2 linked regions of the Homo sapiens genome follow. The protein of the gene in region 2 interacts with the protein of the main gene of each other region in a biochemical or structural test. Each region holds a gene or a part of one and is shown on either strand. Other genes may lie near its edges.

What was found. The genes of interacting proteins can lie anywhere in the genome.
Region 1: the proteins of CETN3 (region 2) and TRPV4 interact in a test that uses a peptide from one of them, tested with the Homo sapiens proteins (one large-scale study listed by BioGRID).

What each region holds. Positions count from the first base shown.
Region 1 is NC_000012.12:109,782,435-109,785,494, forward strand, and holds the end of TRPV4 (transient receptor potential cation channel subfamily V member 4), read right to left. Parts: intron 2,004-3,060; coding exon 1,882-2,003; intron 1,345-1,881; coding exon 1,187-1,344; 3' UTR 655-1,186; downstream 1-654. UniProt on the Homo sapiens protein: Non-selective calcium permeant cation channel involved in osmotic sensitivity and mechanosensitivity. Activation by exposure to hypotonicity within the physiological range exhibits an outward rectification.
Region 2 is NC_000005.10:90,399,678-90,403,332, reverse strand, and holds part of CETN3 (centrin-3), read left to right. Parts: intron 1-3,655. UniProt on the Homo sapiens protein: Plays a fundamental role in microtubule-organizing center structure and function. As a component of the TREX-2 complex, involved in the export of mRNAs to the cytoplasm through the nuclear pores.

The sequences.
Region 1 (3,060 bases), on a different chromosome or scaffold from region 2:
GCCAGGAGCACCATGACCCCCACCCATCCCAGCTCCACAAGCACTGCCAATCGCCCCTGCCACCATGGTCCTCACCACAGCGACCCGCATGCACACCCAGCACCCTGCTGACACTCCAGGCTCACCCACTGCCACGCCTGCTCCGTGCTGCCTGGCAACCATCCTCCCGCCTAGCAGGACAGCCCTCCCAGTATAATTGTCCCCTGATGAGCACCAGAGTCCCCGCACCTGCACTGTCAACCCCTGGCCAGCGTTACTCTCCCCTGCCCAAATGTACTGTCTCCATGGGGATCATTATCCCCCAGCCAGCACTACTGTCACCCCCACCAGCATCACTCTCGCCCTGCCAACATGACTCTCCCTGGCCAGCATTATTACCCCCACCAGCATCACTCTGCTCTCCTCCCTCCACCCCCACCTTCCCCACAGCCACACCAACCTCAGCCACCTCTCAGGCCACCACCACCACCATCACAACCACCCAGTCCAGCCCCCAACCACCAACACTCTAAATGCCTCCCGGTCAGGACTTCTGCCCTCACTCTCACCCCTGCCCCTGGCTCCCCCCAGGCATTTCCTAGCTCTCCCATCTCCCTCGCTGCAGTCTCATGCCTGTTACCATCCCTCCCACCCCTGCCATCATCCTGCCATCTCCACCGTCAATGAATAAACATTTATTGAGCACCGGCAAATCCCAGACACTACAGAACACACAGAAGGCATGGCCCCACGCCGAGGGCCCCAGCCCCTTGCAAAGCTGCCACGCTGCCAAAAATGGTGGCGCATGCAGCTCAGGCGCAGGCTGAGGCTGGGGCTTGGCCGGGCAGTGCACTTGGAACGGGGTCCTAAGGCCTCTGCCAGGTTCCAGCTGGGGCAGGGGTCACGTCGCTTCCTGAGAGCAGAGCAAATAAATAATGGAGAGGCAGGGGCTGGGGCCTGAGGTGGAGGGGCTCTGGCGTTGGCTTATGTGACTCCATAGGAGCAAGACAGGTGGCCGGGAGCCCCCACCCCAGGGTGGGGAGGCAGAGCCAGGGGACCACAGGGTCCTGGGGCCTCCCTGGCACCTCCACTGGTCCCTCGCCTCTGGGGCCAAAGCAGGGTGTGGGGGGACACCCCAGAAGGCACTGCTGAAATGCGGCTGGACTAGAAATGAGTGGGCAGAGAAGCTGGGGCTGGGCTGCAGTCCCTAGAGCGGGGCGTCATCAGTCCTCCACTTGCGGGGGTAACCCTGCTGGTGGCCATCGCAGCGGGGGTTCCCCATGCTGTCCAGAGGCACCACCACCTCGTCCGGGTTCGAGTTCTTGTTCAGTTCCACCACGCGGGGTACCACCGAGGACCAGCGATCTGCACCGAGAGCACATCAGAGGGAGGGGTGGGGGTTGGTGGAGAGAGAGCGTGCGTATATTGAGTGCCTACTGTGTACTGGGCACTCCACAGTGTTCTGAAGGGGGGATGTGACTATGCTCATTTTACAGAGGTGGAAACTGGGGCTCAAGAGAGGTCAAGGTGCCTCCCCAGGAGAGAATGGAGGAACCAGGATTCAAGCCTGGAGCCGAATGCCCTGAGTGCCTGTGTCCTCTCCAGCTGCGTCTCGCGTGCTCATGGCTTACTGGACAAACAGGAAGGTTTTCTCCACACAGGGATGGCTGAGGAGCTCGTCCTCCCTCCCCAGGCCAGCTTATGTCAACAGTAGGGAGGGCCAGGATGAAGCCACGTAGGTGAGGTGCCCCAGGCATTCACAAGCAGCAGAGGAAGCTCAGGGGCACACTCTCTCATTCTGTAGACACGGACACTGAGTCCCGGAAAGAAGCAGGACTGCTCAAAGCAAATTCGTGATGAGAATGGACTGGGGCTCCCCTCCGCACCCGCCCCTCCACTCACCCCTGCGGAGGCGGCCCACGGTATGCGAGAAGCCATAATACTGGTAGGTCTCATTCTTGCCCGGGTCCTCGTTGATGATGCCCAAGTTCTGGTTCCAGTGAGACCAGTTCACCTCATCCACCCTGGCAGGGCCCAAGCAGAGGGTCATGGGGAACCCCTCAGAGACGCTCTCCATGCCACCATCCCCAGCACACCCTCCTATTTTTTTATTATGGTAACATATACATAACAAGGCTGGGCGTGGTGGCTCATGCCTGCAATCCCAGCACTTTGGGAGGCCGAGGTGGGTGGGTCATTTGAGGTCAGGAGTTCGAGACCAGCCTGGCCAACATGGTGAAACCCCACCTCTACTAAAAATTAAAAAAAATTAAAAAAAAAATTAGCGGGGCATGGTGGCGGGTGCCTATAGTCCCAGTGACCCGAGAGGCTGAGGCAGGAAAATCACTTGAACCTGGGAGGCAGTTGCAGTGAGCCGAGATCACGCCACTGCACTCCAACCTGGGGGACAAAGCAAGACTCCATCTCAAAAAAAAAAAAAAAAAGACGTGTGTGTGTGTGTGTGTGTGTGTGTGTATACACACACAAAAAATTTGCCATCTTAATCATTTTTGAGTATACAATTCAGTGGCATTAAGCACATCCACATTGTGTGACCATCACAGCTATCTATTTCCAAAATTCTTCCATTCCCCCAAGCAGAAATTATTTTTTTTAACCTTCTTTTGAGACAGGGTCTCACTCCATTGCCCAGGCTAGGGTGCAGTGGCACGATCACAGCTCACTGCAACCTTGACCTCCCAGGCTCAAGTGATCCGCCCACTTCAGCCCCCCATGTAGCTGGGATTACAGGGATATGCCACCACACCTGGCTAATTTTTTAAAAACGTTTTGTAGAGATGGGGTTTCACTATGTTGGTCTTGAACTCCTGGGCTCAAGCAATCCTCTTGCCTCGCTTCCCAAAGTGTTGGTATTACAGTCACCACGCCTGGCCCAGATAATATTTCACTGTACACATAGCCCACATTTTGTTTATCCACTCATTTTTTTATATATTATCTTTTTTTTTTACATATTATCTTTAATTTTTTATCCTATCTATTCATTTTTGTTTGTTTGTTTTAAGGCAGAGTCTTGCTCTGTCCGCCAGACTGGAGTGCAGTAGTGCAATCTCGGCTCAC
Region 2 (3,655 bases):
TTCAGGAACTATGTATTACCCCTTTTGTTGATTATTTTTAACTAATCACTGACCACAGATTAATATGTTTTATACTTTGGGACAGATGATTCTAAATCATAACATTTGAGTCCTAGTTTTATGAACTACCCAAGGACACTGTTCCACAGATATATCTGGATGAAGTTTGGCAGTTAACTATTATAGACTCTTCCTAGTACTGGAAAAAAGCTTTAAAATATATTTAATTTAAGTTTAGAGTCAAGACAGCCTGAGGCTAGTGAGTAACATAGATATTTTAGGAATTAGTGTCTTTAAGACTAACATAAGTCAAACGTTTGTACACTATTTTTGACATGTACTACTTATTATTGCTGATTGAGATTGTAATACTGTATTATTGTCTTCATTTTGCTTATTTAACACTGAATTTTTTGGTATTAGGTACTGTACTGGGGTTGGGAAGAAGACTTAATTAAAAGTTACTAAAAGGTTCTTCTTTCAGGGAGTTTACAATGTAAATATAGGTGACAACAGGCTATAGTACTATGTGGTAAATTGTAATTTTGTCTAGGACAGAAGTCAGCAACTATAGCCTTTGGACCAAATTCAGCTGCTGCTTGTACACCACCACACCCCTTCTTTTATGCAGCTTTTGTGCTACTATGGCAGAGTGAGTAGTTAGAGACTTTATGGCCCTCTACAAAGCCTAAAATATTTACTATTGGCCTTTTACAGGAAAGATTTGTTAATCCCTGATCTAGAGGAATTGAAGTCTTTGCAGAGGAGATTTTAAATTTAGGCCTTTGGAAATGTGAGTAAGATTTCATTCCAAGATTGCCAGGAAGAGTAGAGAAAAAGCATTCTAGGCTTAGAAAGCAGCAACAACAAAGAATGGTACTAGACGGATAGCATGTTTGGGAAACTAGGTAGTGTTCTGGGCTAGACATAGGGAAATGACTGGAAACATAGGATTGGGCCAGATTGGTAAAGTCTTGCAAAACATGAAGATTTTGAATTCTAGTCAGCAGAGATCATTCACAATTTTTAAGGGAAGGGGATATGATATGTTTGAGAAAGAAAACTGATGAGAGTATTATTGATGATGAGTTGGAAGGAAGAGAGACTGCAGACAGAAAATACTATTTTTTTCGCTGAGGATGGCGAGGGTGAAAAGAAAATACATTTAAGAATAAAAAAGAGGCTGGGCTTGGTGGCTCATGCCTGTAATCCCAGCACTTTGGGAGGTCAAGGCGGGAGGATTGCTCGCTCACAGGAGTTTGAGACCAGCTGGGGCAACAAAGTGAGATCCTGTCTCTACAAAAAAATTTTAAAAAATTAGCCAGACATGATGGCACATGCCTGTAGTCCCAGCTACTTTGGAGGTTGAGGTGGGAAGATTGCTTGAGCCCAGGAGTTGAGGCTGCAGTAAGCTGGGATCACGCCATTGCACTCCAGCCTGGGCAACAGAGCGAGACCTTGTTTTAAAACAATAAATAAATTAGAAAAAAAACAGTATTCTCAGTACTATAGGACCTGATTAAGTTTGTGGGACTGAAAATGATTTATGCTTTTCAAATATGGAATCTAGCTGTAAATGTTGCTGTTATCTTTTGGTTGGGGTAGGGGAGGCAGCTGCAGTTACTATGGTGGTAGTGGAATGAGTTTGGAGTCCAACATGTCTAACTGGTATGTTTGGATAGAAATTTCCGAAAGACATTGAGAAATACAGTTAAAGCTGTATTTCTAGCATTACCTATAATAATTTTTAATTTACTTTTGATGTGATGTTTTTGGATTTGCCGTATTCTTAAGTGATTTTTACACATTAAAGGTCTAAGAAAGTATTTTGATGAAGTACATTTCTGATAGTATGTGTAATTAAATCATTTGAAAATACAGTTGCATGGACAGAAATTTGGAGTTTTGTGAAATAAATGAAACCCACCTTAACTGCCTCTATATCAGTTTACTAATATTTTCATTGAAAATAAATATATTCCTTATAATTAAATTCTACTTTGTGGAACAAGAATAGAACCTGAAGGCATGGAGGAGAGTCATTATAAAGTTATATATTAGGTAATGTTTTTGCTGTCCAAAATGATGAGCATTTATAATTCCCAAGAAAAGCTGCATTTTAAGGAAGAATATTGATAAAAGAATATATAGACACATAGCTCTGAAATAACTAACACAATTAAAGTACCAGTGGGATAAGAATTTATACATCTTGGAGCCCCATCTGTTCCCCAATCACCCTGTTGCTTCTTTAAGTACATTAATACTTTCAGCAAGCTGCTTTTTTGGTTCACCTGTCATGTAAATTATTTAATTGGTGAAGAAAATTTCTTAACACTTTTTTTCCTTGTCCTGCTTTTTTGTTGGGACTAAATTCAAAATAAGTTGAGTATGTGCCATAGAGTTAAGTGTGGTATTTTATTTTGGTGTTATGGCTGTAGATATGCCAGCTTCTTTTTGACTGAATATTTATGAGCTTTGATGATTTGCATACTTACAGTAATATACTTCAATTAGTTACTTGGAAGCCTTTTTGGATAAAATTAATGGATAAAAGGAAACTATTGAAAATATGTGTAGATGATATAATAGTCATTTGAATAGGTGATTATTGAACCAAATACGGGTGAAACAGCAGCAAAACAACAGCTTGTTGGAGACTTCGATTGTATTTTTTTCATTCTGGGTTCCTTAAACATTCCAGTATTTTCCATCTATAAGCAGTTGCTTTTTTTTTTTTTTTTAATGATTCTGTAACCTTCAACAGGACCGAGTTATTTTTAATAGCATAGTAAAGGCCATAAATACCTTTTCTTGTAGTGGCAGATAGTGTATATAATTACTTCAGAGATACTTATTTAGATACTGTTAGAATTTTATTTAGTAACTTACCAATTTTTATGCCATAGATTTTTATTTTAATTTTTATTGTGGCTATTGATTAAAGACTGGTAAAATTGAAAATACTTAAGCTTATTACTATGTTATTACATGTGATTATATTTAGTGTATTAAAATACACAATTACCATTGAGGTTTGAAACTACATTTATTTTTAGTTAGTTGTCTGAGAGTGATTTATCCAAACAAAATGGGTAAGCTTTAAGGAGACCTTCTTTGCAGAGGTTTTTTTTGGGTGGGCTTTCCTGCTATAGTCAGATTTGATCCTATTTACTACTTTGTAAATTTTGGAAAACCAAGAGGTTCTTCTAATCACAAAGGTATTAGTGGAATTTTCAAATGCTGTCTGAGATTGTGCCTGTGTCTGCGATGGCAGTACTTTTTGTCTCTTGCAGTTTTTCTTGTTTTGAAGTTGGATTAAATTTGAGGAAGAATCAGTGTTAGTATGACGTTTAGTCAGCAAGCAGCTTTTATTTAGTTAGCTCCAATTATTTTGTTGGTATGTCTCTCCACAGGTAGATGACACACTCCTTGTGTGCTTGATGTCAGTGGAGCCTAGTACAATTCTTGATAATAGTAGATCTTAAATAAATATGGTATAAATGTAGTCCTTTTTATTTTGCCTCTGTGTGATATAGTTTTGCTTACTTTTATAATAAGACAAGTTGCTCATGATAAAAAAGGTTAACATTTAAAATATGGATTTGATTTTTCTAATTTCAGGTTTATCTCGGGGTTTGGGGATCTCATTTGA